4 separate regions of the Homo sapiens genome follow, and regions 2, 3 and 4 are each linked to region 1. Evidence: fine-mapped expression QTL. A gene starts in region 1. Each other region holds a variant in brackets. All regions are shown on one strand. Distances are between the middles of the regions.

Region 1 (2,684 bases):
AGATAAGCTTACTCAGTGCTTCCTTAAATTGAACACATTAATCTTCCAGATATCACCTTTTGTTAGGACTCAGAGTTACAAATGACTCTGAACACACCAACATTTTCTTACTCAGTTCCTCTCTGCACCAAACCCAAGAGACTCTAATAGTTAGGCAGGAATATCATCGCCTCTATTCAGCCTGAAGAAGTTACAGAAGATGGATCTTCATGCCTCTACAACCCTTAAGATTAAACGTTCCCTCGTAAAAGAGAGTAGGGAAATATGTCAGAGGTGTTCAAAATAGGGCAACTCCATCTTGAATAGGGGCTGGGTAAAATGAGGCTAAGACCTGCCAGGCTGCATTCCCAGGAGGTCAGGCATTTGTAGTCACAGGAAGGGATAGGAAGTTGGCAGGACTGGTATCACAAGATACAGGTCATCAAGACCCTGCTGAGAAACAGTATGCGGTAAACAAACCAGCCAAAACCTGCCAAATCTAAGATTGCAATGAAAGTGACATCTGGTCATCCTTATTGCTCATTGTATGTTAATTAAAATGTGTTAGCTTGCTAAAACACACTTCTACCAGCACCAAGACAGCCTACAAATACCATGGCAATGTCCGGAAATTACCCTATATTGTCTAAAAGGGGGAGGAAGCCTCAGTTTCAGGAAATTCCCACCCCTTTCCTGGAAAACTCATGAATAATCCACCCCTGTTTAGCATAGGATCAAGAAATAACTATAAAAATAGCCAACTAGCAGTGCTTGGGGGTGCTCTGCCTATGGAGTAGCCATTCTTTTGTTTCTTTGCTTCTCTAATAAACTTGCTTTCACTTTGCTCTGTGGACTTACCCCAAATTCTTTCTGGTGCAAGATCCAAGAATTCTCTCTTGGGGTCTGATCAGTACCCCTCTCTGGTAACACTTGCATGATACCTGAGGAGGTCAGCCTGGTCATTCACCCAACAAACATGGGTTAAGCCCTCCCATGTGCCTGGCACAAAGGGGGCTGAGGACTGCAGTTCTGGAACACCTAGGCTCTGAGAGGCGACGCGACTGTGGTAGCAGGGCCAGGATTCTAGCCTGTGCCTGGAGGGCCAACACCTGCACCTTCTCTGCTACCCACCCTGCCTCTGTGACTCAGAGCAGTTAAGCACTTTAGCTCAGGGTGGACTCAGGGCTGCCTCCCCCTTCCTGAGCAACCTAGGGGCTCCTGTGCCCCATGCCTGTGTCCATTTCCCAATCATCAGGGGGCCTCAGACTCCTGCCTGCTCTGACTTTCTAGGCCTTTGAATCAAGCAAGACCCCACTGGATCACCAAAGAGTTAAGCAAAGGAAATCCCTGCCTCCCTTTATCTCCGCAGAACCCAGAGGCTGAAAGGGAGGGAGCAGGGAGGAGGGGAAGTGGGAAGCGGCTCTGCCCTCTCCCTCCGCCCTCCCTCCGCCCTCTCTCCCTCCATCCCCTCCTCTCTCCCTCCTCTGCTGGGCCTGGGGGTCTGGGCCAGCAACAAGTTAGTATTGCAGACATGGGCCAAGGAGCCAGAGGCCATGCAGTGGCTCAGGGTCCGTGAGTCGCCTGGGGAGGCCACAGGACACAGGGTGAGTGACCAGAGGCTCCTCAAGCTTGGGGGCTGGGGTCAGAGCCTGGAATTCCTCTCCTCCCTCCTTGCTTCCTGGAAGCATCTCGGGCCCTGCTCTCTCCCTCTGACTGGGACAGCCTCTCCAGGCTCTCCCCTCCACATTTCCTCCTGCCTCTGGCTGAGGGCTGCGCTCCACTGCTCCCGGTTTGTGCCCGCCCCTACCCGGGCACACACAAACTCAGCTCTGCACGGCCTGCCTGGACCGAGAAAAGTTGCCCTGCCGCTCCCTCCCCAAAGAGGTCCCAGTGGAAGCAGCAAGGACCCCAAAAGTCCTCCCTATGACTTGGTTCCCACACTTGGTCCCTGCCTGGCACCCACCCCCAGAGCTAGTTCGTGATCCTGGCTGTGGTTATGATTCCTCGTTAACGGCTTCCTGATTCCTGCTCCCAGGCCACGGTTCTGTGTCTCACAGCCTTTGACTCCCATCCGCTGGGGCCAATAGGAAACAGAAATGCTCCCAAACCATGCCAGTCCTCTGGGAGAAGTTCTCCTTCCCATCCCATGCAGGCACAGGGAAGAAGTCAAAGCACACTTTTTTTTTTTTTTTTAAGTCTTTTATAAGGCAGGCACTTTTCCTGCATTGAAATCCTTCCAAATTACCTGGGAGGGAAAGGGTGGTGTCATTTCCTTGTAAGTATCAAGGAGCAGGAAGCCCAGAGAGGTTCAGCCACTAGCCCTAGGTCACACAGCTTGCAAACTATTCTGGGTCTCAGATTTGACTCTAAGACCTCAGCTTTTCTCATGAGGTCATATCTGTGGCTGGGAAAAAGAAGGGAATTTTGGGATTTCCAAAACCACTGGGATTTGTCATTTATAAGTAAAAGTTGAGGATGACAGTCTCAGACAGGGAGGATGTTGATCTCTGAGGATTTGACCTCCTTATTGAGCAGAACCAGGAACCCAACCAGGGTGGGCAGAGAGAAGCTTGGGAAGAGTCACCTCCAGGAAGAGGGAGGTGGCTCTGGAGACTTCCTGTCCAGCCCCCTTCTCCTGCTGCTACCATCCAGCTCTGGGGGTGGGGGGCAGGGCTCCTGCCGCTTTATTTATTTTTAGTTTTAAT
Region 2 (2,684 bases), 25 kb before region 1:
CAATTGTGTAACTAGGAAGATAAGGATTAAAAGATCTGTTCATACAGATTTCTTTTGGCCTCGACTCTCCTTATCTGGTAATGTCTTTCCTCCTCCTGGCATAGGGAGGGCGTCTTTCACAAGGCGTTTTAGCTCCTGCTTTCAGGAAGAAAAGGGGAGGTCAGAGCCCCCTTTCTGCACCTGCTGTTTCTGAAGTGCCTTTAGTGCAGAGAAATCAATATGCCAGAGTGGTGTATTCTGGGGTGGCGTGTCCTGAACCCCTTCAGTGGCCTGGCTCAGACGGGAGCCTGTGGATGGAGAGCAGTGGACGGGTTCCAGGCTGGAGCAGTAAGGCTCGGTGCTGGGGAGGTGTGTGGCAGGGGGCACACTGATGAGCATTCACTCCTTTAACCTTCGCAAGAACCCCCAGGCCAGGCAGTCAGGTGTGTACAATCTACTGAAGGAGAAAACCGAAGTTTAAGTTCAGTGCACGGCAGGGGTAGAGCTGGGGCTCAAACTCCCCTGTCCAGTCTTCAGCCCCTATACCCCAACCTGCAGGAATAAGTGAATGAATACATGAGGCTGGGTACGCCTGGGGCACAGAGGAGCGAGTGAAATCAGCAGAGGAGGAGGCCCGCGCAGGCGGCAGGAATCAAGGATGCAGTGCCAGGTGGGCTGCGGCGAGAGAGCTTTATTCTGAGGGCAGTGAGAAGCCGTGGGTAGGGGTGGGTGGTCAGTGCCATGGAAAACCCACCCTTGACCCTGAGGACACGCTCCCAGGAGCCCACCCACACCTCATGAACTTGTACGGACAAGGACAATGGGAGGCTGAGACCTGGAGCAAGGGCCTTGTCCCGGGCACAAGGCAAAGGGACGGGCAGCGTTAAGAGACCAGGCCGGCTCCGGCTGGAAGTGGGTGTGTCCTACTGTGTGCTGCCGCATGCATGGTGGCACCTCTGGATGCATTCAACTTCCAGTTCTCTGCAGTGCCAGGTACCTAGTGACAAAGGAGGTCCAGCCCTGGTCCCAGGGAATGGCCCAGTTTGGAAAGCAGCCTAGGTACAGCCTGGCACATAGTAGGTGCTCAGCCAAGACGTGTGTCCTTTTCCCTTCCGTCTCTGACTGTTCCTTTCCTTATCACTCCTGTGCTGAGGCAGGAATCAGCACAGGCAGGGGCACGGCATCCCAAGACATCTGGGCCTGTGCTCAGGAC[T/C]GTACGGCAGAGTCTCTTAGACCAAAGATCAGTAAATATGGCCCACGGGGCAAATCCCACCCACTGCCTGTTTTTGTACAGCCTAGGAGCTGAGAATGGTTTTTACGGATGAACATTTGCAATCGGTTTGATGAAACACTAACTCTAAACTCCAATTAAGCAAAAGGTGATGTCTGTAAAAAGAACTCTATTCTTCTCATGAGTGGACCTACATTACAAAATACTGGCCTCAATTATTATTATTCTATTTTGAGTTTTGTCAGTTACAAAATAGTAAAAATCTGTTTTCTCACTGCACAATGATTTTGCCCTCAAAGCCTAAAATATTGGTTCTCTGTTCTGTCCTTCCACTCCTCACCCTGCCTGGGGCTCTCCAGATGTAACCAATCCCAGGACTAATGACCCCCACCCGGCCTCCCCAGTGGTCCGTGCTGCGGCCGGTGTGCCCGACTGCAGGGCTGGACTGTGGACTCCCGGGCTGGCCAGCCCCACACCCAGCCTTGCCTTGGGACACAGCTGCTGCCCCGGGGGACCTGTGCCGCAGTGGCCTCACGAGCTGCTCTGGCTACTGGCTGGCAGCCTCGGCTCCCCTGAGCACTGAGCACATTCTTCTCTCCAACTCCCTGCAGGAGCCAAGGCCAGCGGGCGTGGGTGGCTGAAATCTCCCCGGTAACAGGGTCTGCGCCCCTCCTGCTCCCTCTCCGGGCCTCCTCCCTTAACCTGCACCCCGCCCCCACCCCCCACACCTGCTCTCCGGCCCTCAGCCCCTCCCTGCTTACTCCCTCCTTCACGGGCTCCATGTCACCATCTGTGGCACAGTCCCTCTCTGTCACTCTCCCTGCCACCCCCTCATTCTCCTTCCTCCCTCCTGCCTCTCTCTGCATCTCTCCCTCTCACCCGTGTCTCCTCTCCTCTCTTTCCTTCTCGTCTTCTCCCTGTCACGCATCTCTCATCACTCCCCCTCATTCTGCCTTTCCTCCTACTCACGGTCTCCTCTCCCTCTCCCTCTCTCTCTCTCCCCCTCCCTCTTTCTCTCTCTCTCTCTTTCTCCACCTCCTCCCGACCCCCTTTCCCCTCTATTTCTATTGGCTTCTGTGTCCCTTGCTCCCCTCTTCTCTTCCTCACCCTGGGAAGCTTCTCCCCCCTATCCTTGCCCCTGCCCCCCCAGGATGTGTCCTGGAGATGGGGGGTGACGTACCAGGCTCTGGTTGGGAAGTCAGGGCCGGAGACCAGATGGGAGAGGCTCTGTGGACAGCCGTGGCCGAGGGCCTGGGAGGGAACCTGAGCCCGCAAGCGGTCTAGAAGTGGGTGCCTTGTGGGGACCCTAGTTAGGAGTGCCCTGGGGGCACCTGGGGACTGGGCAGGGAGAGGGGACAGCAGAATGATAACCAGCCTGGCGGCAAGGAGGGAAGCCCTCACCCCATGGGCAGGTAAGGAGGCTGGGGCCCGGATGATGTCCCGAAGGGTGGGGTCCTGGAAGCCCATCCTCTGC
Region 3 (2,684 bases), 67 kb before region 1:
GGTGTGTACCTGCTCAAGGATGGGAGGGGCAGCTCTCATCAGCCCGTCAGTTAGAGAGTGGCCTGTGGGGCCCGCTGGGAGGGCCTCCTGGGACCTGAGGTGTGGGGCAGTGGGAGCTTGGTTCTGTTTGGTATCTGGGTGTGTCTGGGGCACAGAGCCTGGCTCTGGGGGCAGAATGCTGGTTTTCTCATCAGGAAAGTCCCTGATGGAGAGAGGGACCCGCATTCTTCATGGGGGATCTTCGAAGAGAAAATCCTCTCCTAGAGGTAGGGAGGTGACTGGAACTGAAGAGTGGCCCAGGGCGGTCAGCCCAGGGAGCTGGGTTTGGGGATCGGGTGGGGGGCAGTCAGTGGGAGTTCCATCAGCTCCTCGGAATTTGACCTCAGAGCCACTCTGGGAAAACCCTGTCAGGCTGGGGACTCAACTCCAGCACCTGGGGACTGCCCAGAGCTGCCAGCCCTCCCTGTCACCTCTCTTGCTTGTGACACTGAACACAGGATGACCCCCAAGGCAGAGTGGACCTGGACGCAAATGTTCCCCAGCTCTGACTCCAGGGTGCCAGCCAGGGACACCCTAGGCATCCCCTCAATGTTTTCTTTCTTTCTCTCTCTCTCTCTTTCTCTCTCTCTCTTTCTTTCTCTCTCTCTGTCTCCCTCCCTCCCTCCTTTCTTCCTTCCCTCCCTTCCTCTCTTTTCTTTCTTTCTTTTTTCTTTCTGTCTTTCTCTCTCTCTCTTTCTTTCTCTTTCTCTCTCACTCTACTTTCCTCCCTTCCTTCCTTCCCTCCCTCCCTTTTCTTTCTCTCTCTCTCATCCTTCCTTCCCTCCTTTCTTCCTTCTCTCTTTCTCTTTTTCTTTCTCTCTCTCTTTCTTTCTCTCTTTTTCTTTCTCTCTCTCTCATCCTTCCTTCCCTCCTTTCTTCCTTCTTTCTTTCTGTCTCTTTTTCTTTCTTTCTTTCCTTCCCTCCCTCCCTTTCTTTCTTTCTTTCTTCTTCCTCTTTTCTTTCTTCTCTCTTTTCATTCATTCTCTCTCTCTCTTTCTTTCTTTTTCTTATTTCTACCACATTTTACTGAGTGCTAGGTCTGTGTCAGATCTTGGAATATAGTAAAGATTTTTAAAATGTTGGCTGCTATTTCAATAAGATTAAAAATTTTAGCATGATCTGATAATTCTAAAGTTGCATGCATTTGATGACATAACCTAAGGGTTTAAAAACAAAAATAAAAAGTGACAGAATTACAAGTAGAATTGACAAATTCACCACCATAGTGGGAGATTTAACATACTTTTCTCAAGAGCTGATAAATATAAGCAAGGTAAATATAAATTTATTTGTAATGATACGAAAGATCTAAACAATGCAATGAACACCTTTGATTTATTAGACACATAGGGAACACTGAATATATACACATTTATGAAAATAACACTCACAGTAGGTCATAGAGCAAGTCTCAACACATTAAAAGGAGTCAGTGTGACACCGTCTGTATTCTTTGTCTGCAGTATCACGAGGTAAGAGAACAAGATAACAGCCTCTTTCCCCAACTCTTGGAAATTAACAATGCACTTTCAAATGACTCATTGAGCAGAACGGAAATCGTAATGAAAGTTGAAAAATGTTTAGAACTAAAACATAATAAAATATTACATATTAAAACTGTGGGTTGTGGTAAATTTTATGTTATGTCTATTTTACCACAATTA[A/G]AAGCAATGCTAAAGTAGTATTGCCTTAAGAACTTGTATTAGGAACAAAATAAGACTAAAAATTCATGAACTAAGCATTCAAAACTAAGAAGTAAAGTAAGAACATCAGAACAAAGCAAAAGAAAGAAAAGAAACAATAAAGATAAGAATAGAAATTAATTAAATGGGAAACAAATGTATAGTAGAAAGGATTAACAAGACCAAAATTTGGCTCTTTGAAAAGGTGAGTAAAATTAATGAAACTGGGGAGCAATTGATTAAGAACAAAGTTTGAAGGCATAAATAATCAATATAGGATAAAAAAAGGGAGATAACAGAAATTAGAGAGGAGAGATTCAAAAGATATAAAATAATACTATGAATAGCTTTACACTAATGAATTTGAAAACCCAAGCAAAATGGGCAACTTTCCAGAAAAATATCTAAAGCATGACTCAAGAAGTAATAGTGGCCGGGCGCGGTGGTTCATGCCTATAATCCCAGCACTTTGGGAGGTCAAGGTGGGCAGATTGCTTGAGCTCAGGAGACCATCTTGACCAATATGGTGAAACCTCATCTCTACTAAAAATAAAAAATTAGCCGGGCCTAGTGGTGCCTGCCTGTAGTCCCAGCTACTTGCGAGGCTGAGGCATGAGAATCACTGGAACCCAGGAGGTGGAGGTGGCAGAGAGCTGAGATCACACCACTGCACTCCAGCCTAGGTGACAGAGTAAGACTCTGTCTCAAAAAAAAAAAAAAAAAAAAGGAATTCCAAATAGTCCTATACCCCTTAAAGAAATTGAATTAGTAGTTTAAAATCTACCCCTCTTCCCCCTCTCCCCCATAATTCTGAAACCAGGTCCAGATACAGATGGCTTTATAAATTTTATAAAATATTTAAGGGAGAGATAATGTAATATTATCCAAACTGGCTGGGCGCGGTGGCTCACGCCTGTAATCCCAGCACTTTGGGAGGCCGAGGCGGGCAGATCACGAGGTCAG
Region 4 (2,684 bases), 30 kb before region 1:
CTACCCACCATTCCTACCACGCTCCAGAGAGATACTGACATTTGGGGACATCTGACTCCATCCAGCTCTCACATGATATGGGAGGCAGAGCAGGACAGGTCCCGGAGAGGGAGAGGCAGATCCAGGATATCCCTAGAAGGCTTCCGGAGAGGACCTCAAGGAAGGTAAAATGAGCAGTTTTTTGCAGAATCCAAAATTCAATACAGTTCCCACCTATTAACTATGTGCTTCACACCAAGCTGTGGCAGGAGCTGGAGGTGCAGAGAGGGGTGAGGCACAGCCCCTTGCGCACCAGCAGCTCAGAAGCCAGTGGGAGAGACAGACGTGTAAATAGACATCCACCATGTGGCTTGATCCACAGATCACAGAAATATATTCAATACAGAAAGGAAGAGACTCTCGTCTCAAGGCGCTAGGGTAGAGATGTTTCCACCCCCACCTCCTCGCTGAAAAGCAGCCACGACAAGAAGGAGAACAAGAAACAGAAACACAAACTCCCACCTTCAAAGAAGCCAGGAGACACCTGTAACCCCAAACCACAATGTATGAGCAGCAAGAGCAGATGGAGGGTGGTAAATGATTGAACAGAGCTGAGGAAGGCAAACCTAAGTGCCTGCTGCTACATGGTGGGGTGGAGTAGGGGCTTTGGAGACAGAAAAGATGCAAATCACCTGGTCTTGCAGAACCCTGGGGAGGCTTAGAATTAGGGAACCCAGACATCATGGATGGTGAGGCAGGAGGCTGAAAACAGGGGTTGTGTGGAAGTCTGCTTAGGAGGAGTGAGATCCCCCAGCACCACCCCAGGTCTTCTCTTTTCCATTACGTGGTCAGGCACCCACCCCTCCCTAACCCCAGCAAGGAGTATTCAGCCAGAGTTCTCTGGACCCAGAGACATTCGCTACAGGGCAGAGTGGGGGTGAGGCACCACAATGCTTTTGGAGATGTCAATTCGATGATGCCTTGCAAATAATCACTCCTCCACTCCTACCCTCCCTACCCATCACTCCTACCATGCTCCAGAGAGAGATTGACACACCCTCTATGGGAGGGGCGTGTTTCCCCTCTCCCCTGATGCTGGGCTTGGCCATGTGACTTGCTGTGGCTACTGGGATGACAACCTCCACCTCCTGGGTTCAAGCGATTCTCCTGCCTCAGCCTCCTGAGTAGCTGGGATTACAGGCATGCGCCACCACGCCAGGCTAATTTTGTATTTTTAGTAGAGACGGGGTTTCTCCACGTTGGTCAGGCTGGTCTCGAACTCCCACCCCAGGTGATCCTCCTGCCTTAGCTTCCCAAAGTGCTGGGATTACAGGTGTGAGCCACCATGC[C/T]CGGGCTTAATGCCTCATTCTGAAACAGGAGTGGCTAACACAGGATGACTGGTTGAAGAAGGCTCTAATGATAGCATTGCCCCAAATGATAAATGAAAGAGACCCAATCAAATAAGTAGAAGAAAAGGAATATCAGTAAGCAATAAAGATGATGCAGTGAGCAGAAGAAAATTTTGACAAAACCATCATTGCCATCCTTGAAGAGATAAGGAAACATATATCCACAAATGAGTACAGAATGCCATAGCAAAGAGCAGGCAGAAATCAGGAGAGAGCTGGTTGGGCTCAGTAGCTCATTCCTGTAATCCCAGCAATTTGGGAGGCCGAGGTGGATGGATTGCTTGAGGCCAGGAGTTTGAGACTAGCCTGACCAACATGGTGAAACCCTGTCTCTACTAAAATTACAAAAATTAGCTGGGTGTGGTGGCATGTGCCTGTAATCCCAGCTACTCAGGAGGCTGAGGCAGAAGAATCACTTGAACCCAGGAGGCGGAGGTTGCAATGAGCTGAGATTGTGCCACTGCACTCCAGCCTGGGTGACAGAGTGAGAGAGCGAGACTGTCTGTCTCAAAAAACACAAACAAACAAACAAAAAAATAAAATAAAAAACAGGAGAGAGCTCTTGGAAATGAAAAATAGGTTGATTTAAAAAAAGAGGGACTGGAAGAGAAAAACAGATTTTTTTAAACCTCCCAGGAAGTAGAACAAAATTATAAAGATGAGCAACAAGAAGAATAAAGATTTCATCCAGGAGACCCAATATTCAAATATAATAGGAGTTACAGAAGGAAATAACAGAAAAATGTGTCTCAGAACTGAAGAACACAAATCTTCAGATTAAAAGGCTACTTGGTGCCCCCGAAGACAAATGAAAAAAGAATCAAATCTTGTTATAAAATTTTCAGAAATTTAAGGATAAAGCAAAGATCCTAGAAGATTCCAGAATAATAATAATAAAAAAATTAGCTTAAGTTACACAATGGATTGGGATTAAGAATTGTGCTGGAAGCTGGAGACACCGACAGACGCCTTCCATCAGCTGAGTCAGAGTCATTCTCAATCTCAAATTCTATACCTAGCCTACCTATCAACATGTGTGAGAGGGGAATTCACTATTTTGAAACATGCACACCTTCTCTGAAAGTTACTGGGAGCTATGCTACATCAAAATGAGAGAGGAGGCCAGGCGCGGTGGCTCACGCCTGTAATCCCAGCACTTTGGGAGGCTGAGGCAGGTGGATCACTTGAGCCCAGGAGTTCAAGACCAGCCTTGGCAACATGGCAAAACCCCATCTCTACCGAAAATACAAAAACTATCTGGGTGTGGTGGCATGCACCTGTAGTCCCAGCTACTCA

What was found.
Region 2: its variant is fine-mapped to the expression of C1QTNF6 in whole blood (INTERVAL, PIP 0.98).
Region 3: its variant is fine-mapped to the expression of C1QTNF6 in whole blood (INTERVAL, PIP above 0.99).
Region 4: its variant is fine-mapped to the expression of C1QTNF6 in blood mononuclear cells (TOPMed, PIP 0.96).

The regions. Positions count from the first base shown.
Region 1 is chr22:37,187,062-37,189,745 of GRCh38, reverse strand. C1QTNF6 (C1q and TNF related 6) reads left to right here and starts at 1,499. Exons shown (of 3, transcript NM_031910.4): 1 at 1,499-1,583. The coding sequence starts at 1,533. RefSeq lists enhancers at 1-489, 490-1,125, 1,126-1,759, 1,760-2,395.
Region 2 is chr22:37,211,763-37,214,446 of GRCh38, reverse strand. It overlaps SSTR3 (somatostatin receptor 3), which reads left to right and starts at 1,970. Exons shown (of 2, transcript NM_001051.5): 1 at 1,970-2,622. RefSeq lists an enhancer at 2,152-2,684. The variant T/C (reference allele first, on the strand shown) is at 1,193.
Region 3 is chr22:37,253,889-37,256,572 of GRCh38, reverse strand. No RefSeq gene overlaps it. Among named protein-coding and RNA genes, the nearest start is that of RAC2, 11 kb to the right of the region's middle. The variant A/G (reference allele first, on the strand shown) is at 1,704.
Region 4 is chr22:37,216,925-37,219,608 of GRCh38, reverse strand. It overlaps a transcript of SSTR3 not described here. Among named protein-coding and RNA genes, the nearest start is that of SSTR3, 5.8 kb to the right of the region's middle. RefSeq lists enhancers at 283-502, 653-822, 853-952. The variant C/T (reference allele first, on the strand shown) is at 1,329.